3 linked regions of the Homo sapiens genome follow. The protein of the gene in region 1 binds, or shares a complex with, the protein of each later gene. Each region holds a gene or a part of one and is shown on either strand. Other genes may lie near its edges. The genes, in order: FDX2, NFS1 and NDUFAB1.

What was found.
Region 2: the proteins of FDX2 (region 1) and NFS1 are in contact, whole or in part, in a cryo-EM structure (PDB 8RMC), measured with the Homo sapiens proteins. Residues at the interface, in NP_001384335.1 of Homo sapiens: Ala104, Cys105, Glu106, Ala110, Cys111, Pro141, Leu142, Ile169, Thr170, Arg171, Asn172, Phe173, Tyr174, Val175, Asp176, His178, Lys181; in NP_066923.3 of Homo sapiens: Gln153, Lys157, Leu160, Asp161, Arg164, Ala168, Tyr175, Ala384, Ser385, Leu386, Glu387, Pro388, Tyr390, Arg393, Gln456, His457.
Region 3: FDX2 (region 1) and NDUFAB1 share a complex: the UniProt entries of both Homo sapiens proteins name them as parts of the mitochondrial core iron-sulfur cluster (ISC) complex.

The regions. Positions count from the first base shown.
Region 1 is NC_000019.10:10,314,021-10,317,766, reverse strand, and holds the start of FDX2 (ferredoxin-2, mitochondrial), read left to right. Parts: upstream 1-1,751; 5' UTR 1,752-1,770; coding exon 1,771-1,915; intron 1,916-2,007; coding exon 2,008-2,062; intron 2,063-2,213; exon of another isoform or gene 2,214-2,274; coding exon 2,275-2,381; intron 2,382-3,746. Other genes in the region: RAVER1 (ribonucleoprotein PTB-binding 1), read left to right, coding at 1-77, 167-313. UniProt on the Homo sapiens protein: Electron donor, of the core iron-sulfur cluster (ISC) assembly complex, that acts to reduce the persulfide into sulfide during [2Fe-2S] clusters assembly on the scaffolding protein ISCU.
Region 2 is NC_000020.11:35,697,302-35,701,047, reverse strand, and holds the start of NFS1 (cysteine desulfurase isoform a precursor), read left to right. Parts: upstream 1-1,695; 5' UTR 1,696-1,759; coding exon 1,760-1,856; intron 1,857-2,457; coding exon 2,458-2,567; intron 2,568-3,247; coding exon 3,248-3,364; intron 3,365-3,746. Other genes in the region: ROMO1 (reactive oxygen species modulator 1), read right to left, coding at 142-250, 1,285-1,415.
Region 3 is NC_000016.10:23,582,671-23,586,416, forward strand, and holds part of NDUFAB1 (acyl carrier protein, mitochondrial precursor), read right to left. Parts: intron 2,754-3,746; coding exon 2,666-2,753; intron 1-2,665. UniProt on the Homo sapiens protein: Carrier of the growing fatty acid chain in fatty acid biosynthesis.

The sequences.
Region 1 (3,746 bases):
GCTCTTCCCCGCTGGGGTCCGGAGAAGGGCTCCTGGGCCTCAGCCCCGGGCCTAATGGTCACAGCCACCTGCTGAAGGTACGGGCAGGGGGTGGGGACATGCAGGGCTGGGAAGCCCCGGCCCCCCAGCGGCCCCTGACCCGCCCCGCCCTGCCCTCTGTCTCCAGACCCCACTGGGCGGCCAGAAACGCAGCTTTGCCCACCTGCTGCCCTCGCCCGAGCCCAGCCCAGAAGGCAGCTATGTGGGCCAGCACTCCCAGGGCCTCGGCGGCCACTACGCGGACTCCTACCTGAAGCGGAAGAGGATTTTCTAAGTGGCTGGCACCAGAGATAACTCAAGGGCCTGCACCAAATCGCTTTTGGGTTTTCTGATGTTTTGTTTTGTGTTTTTTTTAAACCATTTTCTCTCTTTCGGTAATAGAAAAATCTCTGAAAGACTTTACTGACCAATCAGCCGGAGCCCCAGGAGCCCAAGGGGTGTGGGGGAGTCTGGAGGCCTCATTATGTCTCTGGCTTGCTCCCCACGCTGAAACCCTGCAGCCTTAAGAGAGAGGGGCCCCGGCCTGCTCTCCCTCCCTCCCCCCATCTCCTCCTCCGCTGTGCCCGTCTCTCCGGAGCCCTCCTGCCTCATTGCTCCTGTAATTTTGGCCTTTCGAGTGCCTTGGAGGTTTCCCTGACCTCCCGTGAAGATACAGAGACTGTCTCCTTTTTTTTTAACTTTGACAACTGACTTCTGTTTCCTTTTCTAAGTTTTATTTTTCAAACCACCCCGGACAGCCCCCAGCTCTGATTCCTTCAAGGCCCGGCCTGTCCGGGCCACCATTCCACACCTTGCGGTTTGAAACAGCTGTTTTTCCCACATTTGCTGCAGGCATGGCTGTCTCCTGCCCCTGCCTGCCCATCTGGCCTATACCCCAGCCGTGGGGCCCGGGGTCCCTGCCGCAGCCCCCTCCCCTTCTGATGCCTTAAAAGCTGGGCCCCAGGCCCTGCTGGCCAGAGCCACAGATGCCAAGCTCTGGGAGCTTGACTATGGACCAAACAGCTCTGGCCTAGGGATTGGGCCACCCTACCCAGGATCTCCACCCTGGGGACAGTAGAAGGGGAAAGCCTTCATCTTGGCGAACCGGCCCCACCACCCCCTCCTACCCGGGCCTCCGTGCAGAGATGGGCTTTCTCTGCCAGTCCCCTGCTGTCTGTCTGTGGGAGTCGGACATTGTGCCCATCTCCCGGAGCCTCTGCTGTCACTCGCTTGTTGAAGATGAATTCTTGAATTCTGCCTGCCCACCCCCGGCCAGATCCCTGGAGCTGGCCTCCTTCCAGCCCAGTGCCAGAAACCAGCACTCCATGAAGATAAACTCTGGGCCCGCCCACCAGCAGGACCTGTCGACCTGAGGTGACCCTGGGCCTTGCCCCCAGCCAACTGGGCCACCAGCTTCCCTCCCTTGACTCTGGGGGTCCACATCCACTCCAAGGGGACTATTCCCCCGACCCCACCCCAGTCTCCCCACACGGACCTTTGCTGAATTAAAGTTTGTAAGTAAATGGTTTTAAAGAAATCAGAGTTGGCTGGTTCTTGGGACAAACAGTGGGCTTGAGTGGGAGGTCTGGGATGGCCCCGCGGGTTTACCTGAGATGGATTCCGCCCTGCTCTTCCCACCTGGTCACCGCAGGCCCTAAGCAAACATCTGCGCTTATGTTCCATTGATTATGGGCTTTCCCTCGCCTCCCTGGCGCGGCGCATGCTCAGTCGGTGAGTCACGTGATGCATGTCATGGCCGCCTCCATGGCCCGGGGAGGCGTGAGTGCCAGGGTTCTACTGCAGGCTGCCAGGGGCACCTGGTGGAACAGACCTGGGGGCACTTCCGGGTCGGGGGAGGGGGTGGCGCTGGGGACAACCAGAAAGTTTCAAGCGACAGGTACCTGGGGCGCCCGGGGCGGGCAGCGTTAATCCGTCAGATGCCGGCGGGGCGGGGCTCGGCGCAGCCGCTCACCGAACCGTGTTTTCCAGGCTCGCGCCCGGCTGGAGAGGAGGACGCGGGCGGCCCGGAGCGGCCCGGGGACGTGTGAGTGCAGGGGGCCAAGTCCCCCATTCCTCATCCCACGGAATTCCTCTGGTCCCCATCTTGCCCTGTAGCTTCATCTCGAGGTCCCCCTTCTGCTTTGCCCTATTCAGTACCTGTGCGTCAAGCCTCAATTCCTACTTCCTAACCCTAGATTCTACCCGGGCCCTGAGCCCATCATCCAGTTCGGCATTCGCACTTCCATCTGTCCCCAGGGTGAACGTGGTGTTCGTAGACCGCTCAGGCCAGCGGATCCCAGTGAGTGGCAGAGTCGGGGACAATGTTCTTCACCTGGCCCAGCGCCACGGGGTGGACCTGGAAGGTAGGAACCGGGCAGAGGGAATTAAGGAGGTCCTTATACATTTGTCCAAAAAAAAAAAAAAAAAAACCCACAAATTAGGTGTGTCTCTTCACGTCTTTTTCCCACCAAATATGGACTAAAATCCAAACCCCTCACCATGGCCTCATCTGTTGCCAAGCTCTTATTTGTTAAGCATTTATTAGAGATCACTAGGACTCCTGGCTCCCAGGATTTTGTGTTCTCTTCCCCCTTCCTCCCTGTATTCTAGCCACATTGGCTTTCTTTTTGTTGTTGTTGTTTTGAGATGGAGTTTCACTCTTGTTGCCCAGGCTGGAGTGCAATGGCTTACTGCACCTCAGCTCACTGCAACCTCCACCTCCCGGGTTCAAGCGTTTCTCCTGCCCCAGCCTCCAGACTAGCTGGGATTACAGGCGCCCACCACCAAGCCCAGCTAATTTTTGTATTTTTAGTAGAGACGGGGTTTCACCACATTGGCCAGGCTGGTCTCAAACTCCTGAAAGGTGATCCACCCGCCTCAGCCTCCCAAAATGCTGGGATTACAGGCATGAGCCACCGCGCCCAGCCCACACTGGCTTTCTTGTGGTTCCTCAAACAACCAAGCTCATTCCTGCTTCGGGGCCTTTACATTTGCTGTTCCCTCTGTCTGAAGTGCTTTCCCAGCAAACATTCTGGCTCTTTCTCATCCTTCAGACCTCAGTGTAAATGTCATGTCCCTAACAATCCCATTCCCCTCAGCCCAGCTGAAGTACCCATGCCCTAGTTACTCTGTCTTATCAGTGTGATATGATATATAGCACTTCTCACTTTTTTTTTTTCAAGAGACGGAGCCTTGCTGTGTCGCCAATGCTGGAGTGCCATGATGCAATCATACCTCACTGCAGCCTTGAACTCCTGGGTTCAAGTGATCCTCCCACCTCAGCCTCCCAAGTAGCTGGGATTATAGGCACAAGCCACAATGCCAGGCTGTTTTGTTTCCTACTTTGTCATCTGTCCCCCAGTGAGATTGGTGACCCATGTCCTTATTCATGCTTATCTGTTGCCTGTCAAGATGTAACAGATGTTTGATAATTTGTTGAGAGAAAAATAATAATAGAAATTTCTTGTCCAGGCACAGTGGCTCATGCCTGTAATCCCAACACTTTGGGAGGCCGAGGCAGGCGACTCACTTGAGGACAGGAGTTTGAGACTAGTCTGGCCAACATGGCGAAACCCTGTCTCTACAAGAAACACAAAAATTAGCTGGGCGTGGTGGCACATGCATATAATCCCAGCTACTTGGGAGGCTGAGGCACAAGAATCACTTGAACTTGGGAGGCAGAGGTTGCAGTGAGCCAAGATGGCACCACTGCACTCCAGGCTGCATGA
Region 2 (3,746 bases), on another chromosome or scaffold:
GAAGATCCTTGGCAAAGCTGGATAATAGGCTGAGAGAAGAATATTCCTTTAAGAGAGGGACACTGACTACTCAAAGACTTTCTTTTATTAGTACATGGGCTGGGATTGATGGGAAGGGACAGATGTAGTTGGCAACCATGGTTAGCATCGGATGCCCATCCCAATGGCCATGAATGTGCCAAAGGTGCCGCCACTCTGCATCATGGTTTTCCCAATGCCGCCCATCAGCTCTCGACCCCGCATTCCGATCCTGAGGAGGAAACCAAGATGGAGCTATTTGGTAACAAAAATATCAGAAAGAGTATTAACTGCTCCTTTCCAATTTTTTGCTAACACTAGTCTAGCAACCCCTACATCTGATTTTCCACTTACTGGATATTATATCTTACTACCTGGGGTGGGTAATGAGAAGGAAAAAGATCCATCTGGGTCTCCAGGGTATTTTTCTGGTGGATGTCGTATTAACTGCCTTCAGTTTGTGGGAGGCAGCAGATGCAGTGTAAAATACATAGAGAAACCAGCTTTTTTGACTGGTGTTGCCTGCAGTTTAAGACCCAATAAAGACATCTGTCTTTTAGTTTCTTGGTGTTAATGATTTTGGAGTAAGGTGGGGGTTCAAGAGTCAGCTCTACAATTTACACATAGTGTCAAGTGTAAAATGGGCATCTCAACATTATTTACAGGATTTTGAAAACTACAGTATTTAGCACAGTGCTTAACATAGAGTAAGTGCTCTGTAAATGATAATTTACAATCTAGGGATATGGCAATAACAGCCTCTAAATGTGAAAATGACCTTTAGAGTGTAAAGTTTAACTGCTTTATCTCTGTATCCTGTATCCAGAATAGTAAAACCGCTGAACGAGTTTCTTTCCTTATGCGCAATTGGAAAAAAAAATAAAAGCAACAGTAGTAACTAGTTACTGAGCACTTAATATGTGCCAGATGCTGTGCAAAGTGTGCTGATCGAATTTTTACAACTCTATAAGTTAGATGCTACTGTCTTCATTCTACACTTAAGGAAACCCAGTCTCCAACTTGCCTAAAGTCACCGAACCAGTAAGAAAAGGGCCAGAAAGCATTTTGACTCTAAAGCTCAAATTCTTAAGCACTGACGCTTCCAACCTGACTTTACAGATTGAAGGTGGTTTGGAATGAGTCTGGCTCGCGAGGGGACAGAGAGGGAAGTCGAAAGAAGGAGGCTGTGTTCAGGCTCCAGGCCGAATGGGGCAGGGCCGGAAGGTCTGGTTGTCCTGCCCAGAGATCACCGCCCGCGCCCCTCACCTGAGACAGGAAAAGGTGCCGAAGAGCGCCCCGGCCGCCATGCCCACGGCGCAACCCATCACGAAGCCCATTTTGACACGGTCGAAGCAGCTTGGCTGGGACTGTCCGTAGGGACCCACGGCCACCGGCATCTGCGGGGGATAGGAAAGTGTGGGCCCAGGCGCTGGCCCAAGAGTCGGGCGGGGACGGAAGCGGTAGGCTGGGAAGTGGGCCCAAGGGCTCAGGGGAAGTAAGGGAAGGAAAATCAGTGGGTAGCCCGACTCCACCACCCTCTTCGCGTTCCGGCCCCGCGTCGCCCGGCGCCTACCTCACCTCGCTCGCGGGCTGGGTCGCTCAGCTCTACGTCTCTCACGGAAAACGACGGGGAGGGCGCTCGCGGCCCGATGAATCGCTTCCGGAGCGCCGGGCAGCACTTCCGGGAGCCTGGGGCCCAGGACTGCAGCGGCTTCGGAAGGTGGGCTCTGCCAGCGGGACCATGCTGCTCCGAGCCGCTTGGAGGCGGGCGGCAGTGGCGGTGACAGCGGCTCCAGGGCCGAAGCCCGCGGCGCCCACTCGGGGGCTGCGCCTGCGCGGTACGCTCGGGTCCCGCTCTCCGGGAGGCGCGGACCTGTCCCCTCCGCGCGGCGACGCAACTGAATATTCCGGAGCCTTCCTGTCCACCCTGCTGCCCAGACCCTCTGACCCTTCTCTCAAATGACACATCCCTCAAACTTTCTTAGGCGGGTCCCCGAACGGTTGACCCCGGCGCACCACCCCTCGCACCCTGCGCGACAGGCCCCCAGAGCCGTGGAGGCGCGTCCTTCAGACCGCTCCTGGCCAAGTTACAGATGCTGCTCCGGGCTCCCGTGCAGACCGTTACCTTCGGTCAGAAGGGACTGCACCTACTCTGGCTCCACGTTCCTTCTAAACGTCTTTGCCCTTTAGAGCCTTCCTTCCTACGATACCATTTGAATATCAACTCAACACCCCCTCCAGGAACCCTCTCTCCCTCTCCCTTACCTCCTTTTACAGCGTGTCAGGTATCTGGTGTTGTTTTCTTTCCATTGAGATTCGACCCTAGCATCCCTTACACTTATCTCACCTCCAGCCAGATTTTTCCTTCTGCCCTTTGGATGCCATGCGTTCATAGTTGCCTTCGGTCTTACTTGGCTACTCCGTTCCATTTTTTATCAGTTGGAGACCGTGCTCCTCAGTCTGCGGTTCCCGCAGATACAGCCGCTGCCCCGGAGGTGGGGCCAGTGCTGCGACCTCTCTATATGGATGTGCAAGCTACAACTCCTCTGGTAAGGATGAAGCTTTTCCCAAGGCTGCTTATAGGAAGTAAATGATGGGCGTGATCACGCAAAGAAATGGCTGAATCCCTGGAGAAGTGAGAGCCGTGAAGGTGTGCTGGAAAAAGCACTGAGCGAGGAGTCGGGAGGCTTAAATTCGAGGCCACTGGCATTGGCTTTACTACTCACTAGCAATTGACCTTGGTCAGATCACTTCAGCGCAGGCTCTATAGTATTAGTTAAAAGCATGGGCTCTGGAATGAGCAGAACGGCCACTTAGTAACTGTGTGAACTTGGACAAGTATTAAACGGGTTAAAAGACTAATGCAAGTTTTCACCAATGTGTGACCAGGGGTGTTTGCCTAGGCCCTGTCCTGTCCCAGCCCCTTATAGATCACATTACCTGGCAGGAATGGAAACACCAGCAGAAACAGATGTCGGAACAAGGCAGTGTTTGTAGACTACCTGAGGGGAGGCAGAACAATCCGAGTTGGGATGGGTTGTGAGTGGGAGTGTATTAGGTTGATATTTGGTGGGTAGTTTTGTGGGAACAAAAGAATGTTTGAGGCCTCCTCTAGGCAGTGCCTGAGGGGTTGAGAGTGTCTTAAGGCAGGGTGGCCAGGTCTGAGGGGTGGAGTGGGACCTGAATTGACGATGCGCTCAAGGAAAATGATCTGTTCTGTTGTGTTCAGGACCCCCGGGTGCTTGATGCCATGCTCCCTTACCTAATCAACTACTATGGGAACCCACACTCCCGGACACATGCTTATGGCTGGGAGAGTGAGGCAGCCATGGAACGTGCTCGTCAGGTTAGTACACAGGAGTCTAGGAGGTTCTAAGGTCAAAGAGGGGCAGTGGCCTGTGGGAGGCATTTCTTTCTTGGTAGGTGTGCATGGAGGTAGAAATGGTTTTGGATTCTTTCTGGAAGAGATTCAAAGAGCAGCCTTGGAGTTTGACTGCAGGCATTTGATTGGTTCCCATATTTCCTGGCTAAATGACTTGGGCAAGTTATCTAATTTCTTTGAGCCTTATTTTCCTCATTTAAAACAGAGATTGTGGTAGTTTCTACTCTGTAGGGTTACTGGGTGGATTAAATAAGACAATGCTGATAAAGTGTTTATTACCACAACATCTGTAAGTAAGAAGTACTATAAATAGTAAGAGCTCAATAGTTCTTTTTTTTTTTTTTTA
Region 3 (3,746 bases), on another chromosome or scaffold:
TGCAACCATCACCATTGTGTAAAAGAAACCCAGCTCCCTCTCCCTCTCCCCACGGTCTCCCTCTCCCTCTCCCTCTTCCCACGGTCTCCCTCTCCCTCTCCCTCTCCCCAAGGTCTCCCTCTCCCTCTCCCTCTTCCCACGGTCTCCCTCTCCCTCTCCCTCTCCCTCTCTTTCCATGGTCTCCCTCTGATGCCGAGCCGAAGCTGGACTGTACTGCCGCCATCTCTGCTCACTGCAACCTCCCTGCCTGATTCTCCTGCCTCGGCCTGCCCAGTGCCTGCGATTGCAGGCACGCGCCGCCACGCCTGACTGGTTTTCGTATTTTTTTGGTGGAGACAGGGTTTCGCTGTGTTGGCTGGGCTGGTCTCCAGCTCCTAACCGCGAGTGATCTGCCAGCCTCGGCCTCCCGAGGTGCCGGGATTGCAGATGGAGTCTCGTTCACTCAGTGCACAATGTTGCCCAGGCTGGAGTGCAGTGGCGTGATCTCGGCTAGCTACAACCTCCACCTCCCAGCTGCCTGCCTTGGCCTCCCAAAGTGCCGAGATTGCAGCCTCTGCCTGGCCGCCCATCGTCTGGGATGTGAGGAGCCCCTCTGCCCGGCTGCCCAGTCTGGGAAGTGAGGAGCGCCCCTTCCCGGCCGCCATCCTGTCTAGGAAGTGAGGAGCGTCTCTGCCCGGCCACCCATCGTCTGAGATGTGGGGAGCGCCTCTGCCCGGCTGCCCAGTCTGGGAAGTGAGGAGCGCCTCTTCCCGGCCACCATCCCGTCTAGGAAGTGAGGAGCGTCTCTGCCCGGCCACCCATCGTCTGAGATGTGGGGAGCGCCTCTGCCCCACTGCCCCGTCTGGGATGTGAGGAGCGCCTCTGCCCGGCCGCGACCCCATCTGGGAGGTGAGGAGCGTCTCTGCCCGGCTGCCCCCTCTGAGAAGTGAGGAGCCCCTCCGCCCGGCAGCCGCCCCGTCTGAGAAGTGAGGAGCCCCTCCGCCCGGCAGCCGCCCCGTCTGAGAAGTGAGGAGCCCCTCTGCCCGGCAGCCGCCCCGTCTGGGAAGTGAGGAGCGTCTCCGCCCGGCAGCCGCCCCGTCAGGGAGGTGTACCCAACAGCTCATTGAGAACGGGCCATGATGACGATGGCGGTTGTTTCGAATAGAAAAGGGGGAAATGTGGGGAAAAGATAGAGAAATCAGATTGTTGCTGTGTCTGTGTAGAAAGAAGTAGACATAGGAGACTCCATTTTGTTCTGTACTAAGAAAAATTCTTCTGCCTTGGGATGCTGTTGATCTATGACCTTACCCCCAACCCGGTGCTCTCTGAAACATGTGCTGTGTCCACTCAGGGTTAAATGGATTAAGGGTGGTGCAAGATGTGCTTTGTTAAACAGATACTTGAAGGCAGCATGCTTGTTAAGAGTCATCACCACTCCCTAATCTCAAGTACCCAGGGACACAAACACTGCGGAAGGCCCCAGGGTCCTCTGCCTAGGAAAACCAGAGACCTTTGTTCACTTGTTTACCTGCTGACCTTCCCTCCACTATTGTCCTATGACCCTGCCAAATCCCCCTCTGCGAGAAACACCCAAGAATGATCAATTAAAAAAAAAAAAAAAAAAAGAAACCCAGTGCCCGTCAGCAGTCACTCCCCATCCTCCCTAGCTCTGGCAACCACCCGTGTACTTTCTATCTCTGGATTTGCCTCTTCTTGACATTTCATGTAAATGGTATATAACGTGTCATCTTCTGTGTCTGGCTTCTTTCACTCGGCACGTTCTCAAGGTTCGTGTGCTGTAACACACGTCACCCATGCATTTTTTTTTTTATGATGGTTGGGTTTTTATAAATGGCTGGGTTTTGGTAGTTAGCTTACTTTGGCCCAAACACTGTGCTGAGCATTTTACACATCATCTCTAATTCTCACAGCAATTCCAATCCTGGGGTTCCTACTATTATCACCCCCACTTTACAGCTGAGGAAACAGGCTTTGAGAGATACAGTTACTTGTCCAGGCTCATACCTGACTAAGCTCAATTCCAGACCTGGTACTCTTAAGCACTAGGCAAAGGGATTCCATCCTAGTCAGCATCATCTGTGAGGAATTTTAACTAGGCCCTGCTCTGCAGAACAGCACAGAAGTCCTTTGATTTCCTATTCAGCCAACTCACGCAGAAACAGCCATGGAACCTTATAAAGGTCTCACCTGCCCAACACACAGTCCCAAACTTGGAGTGTGCTTGTGAGCCAGGATAGGAGACCAAGGCCAGAGGCTCTGGGTGCGTCTCTTGTCCTGGCACACATTACTTCTACCTGGTTCGCGTTACCCGAGCTCAGGAGGGGCTGACATGTCATCAGCATGTGTTCCGGGGAGGCTTTTGCCCTTTGTCTTAGAACCCTGTCTGAAGAATCAGTCCCCTGGAACCATCTCTGGTCATTCGGCTCTTGGCACCACACTGGGCACTCTGCTGGGCTTGTGCAAGGTGCTCTCTGAATAAATGTACCATCCCTAAAGCTTACTTCACCTGATGGTAAGTGGGCAGGAAGGTGTGTGTGAAGGGCAGTGGATGCTACTGTTTCTATTAATATTTAATTCTAATTCCAATTCAGACGCCCACCACTTCTTTCAGTTTAATCCACCTTAATCAAAAATCGCAGTGTGTAGATAGAAGACTGAGCCTTACCAAATTCGTCTTCCATGGCCATGATAATCTCCACTTGGTCCAAACTGTCTAAGCCCAGGTCTTTCATAAAATGAGAATTTACTGAAAGCTGCAAGAAAGGAGCACCAAACACAAAATTTAGTCCATGAAAGCATCTGCTTCCCAAGATAACAGGGTGGTACAATGCCACTTAATCACTATATTGAATTTATTATACTTTAAGTTTTAGGGTACATGTGCACAACGTGCAGGTTTGTTACATAGGTATACATGTGCCATGTTGGTTTGCTGCACCCATCAACTCATCATTTACATTAGGTATTTCTCCTAATGCTGTCCCTCCCCAAACCCCCTACCCCTTGACAGGCCCTGGTAAATGATGCTCCCCACCCTCTGTCCAAGTGACCTCATTGTTCAGTTCCCACCTATGAGCGAGAACACACAGTGTTTGGTTTTCTGTCCTTGTGACTACATCGAATTTTTTTTAACATACAGAGGCTATAACTGACATTTTATATGTAACCTATGCTAGTATGTACATGGTTTGCTTTATCTTACTCTGTTTTGAAGTGAACAATATATACATAGCTAATGAAGGATTTCACTCTAATGTTGTCTGTTTTTTGGTTTTTTGAGAAAGTCTTGCTCTGTCACCCAGGCTGGAGTGCAATGGCACGATCTCGGCTCACTGCAAACTCGGCCTCCCGGGTTCAAGCAATTCTCACCCCTCAGACTCCCGAGTAGCTGGGATTATAGGCGTGCACCACCACGCCCAGCTAATTTTTGTATTTTTAGTAGAGACGGGGTTTCACCATGTTAGTCAGGCTGGTCTCGAACCCCTGACCTCGTGATCCACCCACCTTGGCCTCCCAAAGTGCTGGGATTACAGGCGTGAGCCACTGCGCCTGGCCAAAGTGTTTACTATCACCCTATCACTCTAATTTAGACCTCAGGATCACCAGGAATGATTCTTCAAAAACCCAAATCAAAAAAAAAACTGCCTTACCTACACAACAGATTCAATTTTTTTTCGTTGTTAGATGGAGTTTCACCCTGTCATCCAGGCTGCAGTGTGCAGTGGCATGATCTCGGCTCACTGCAC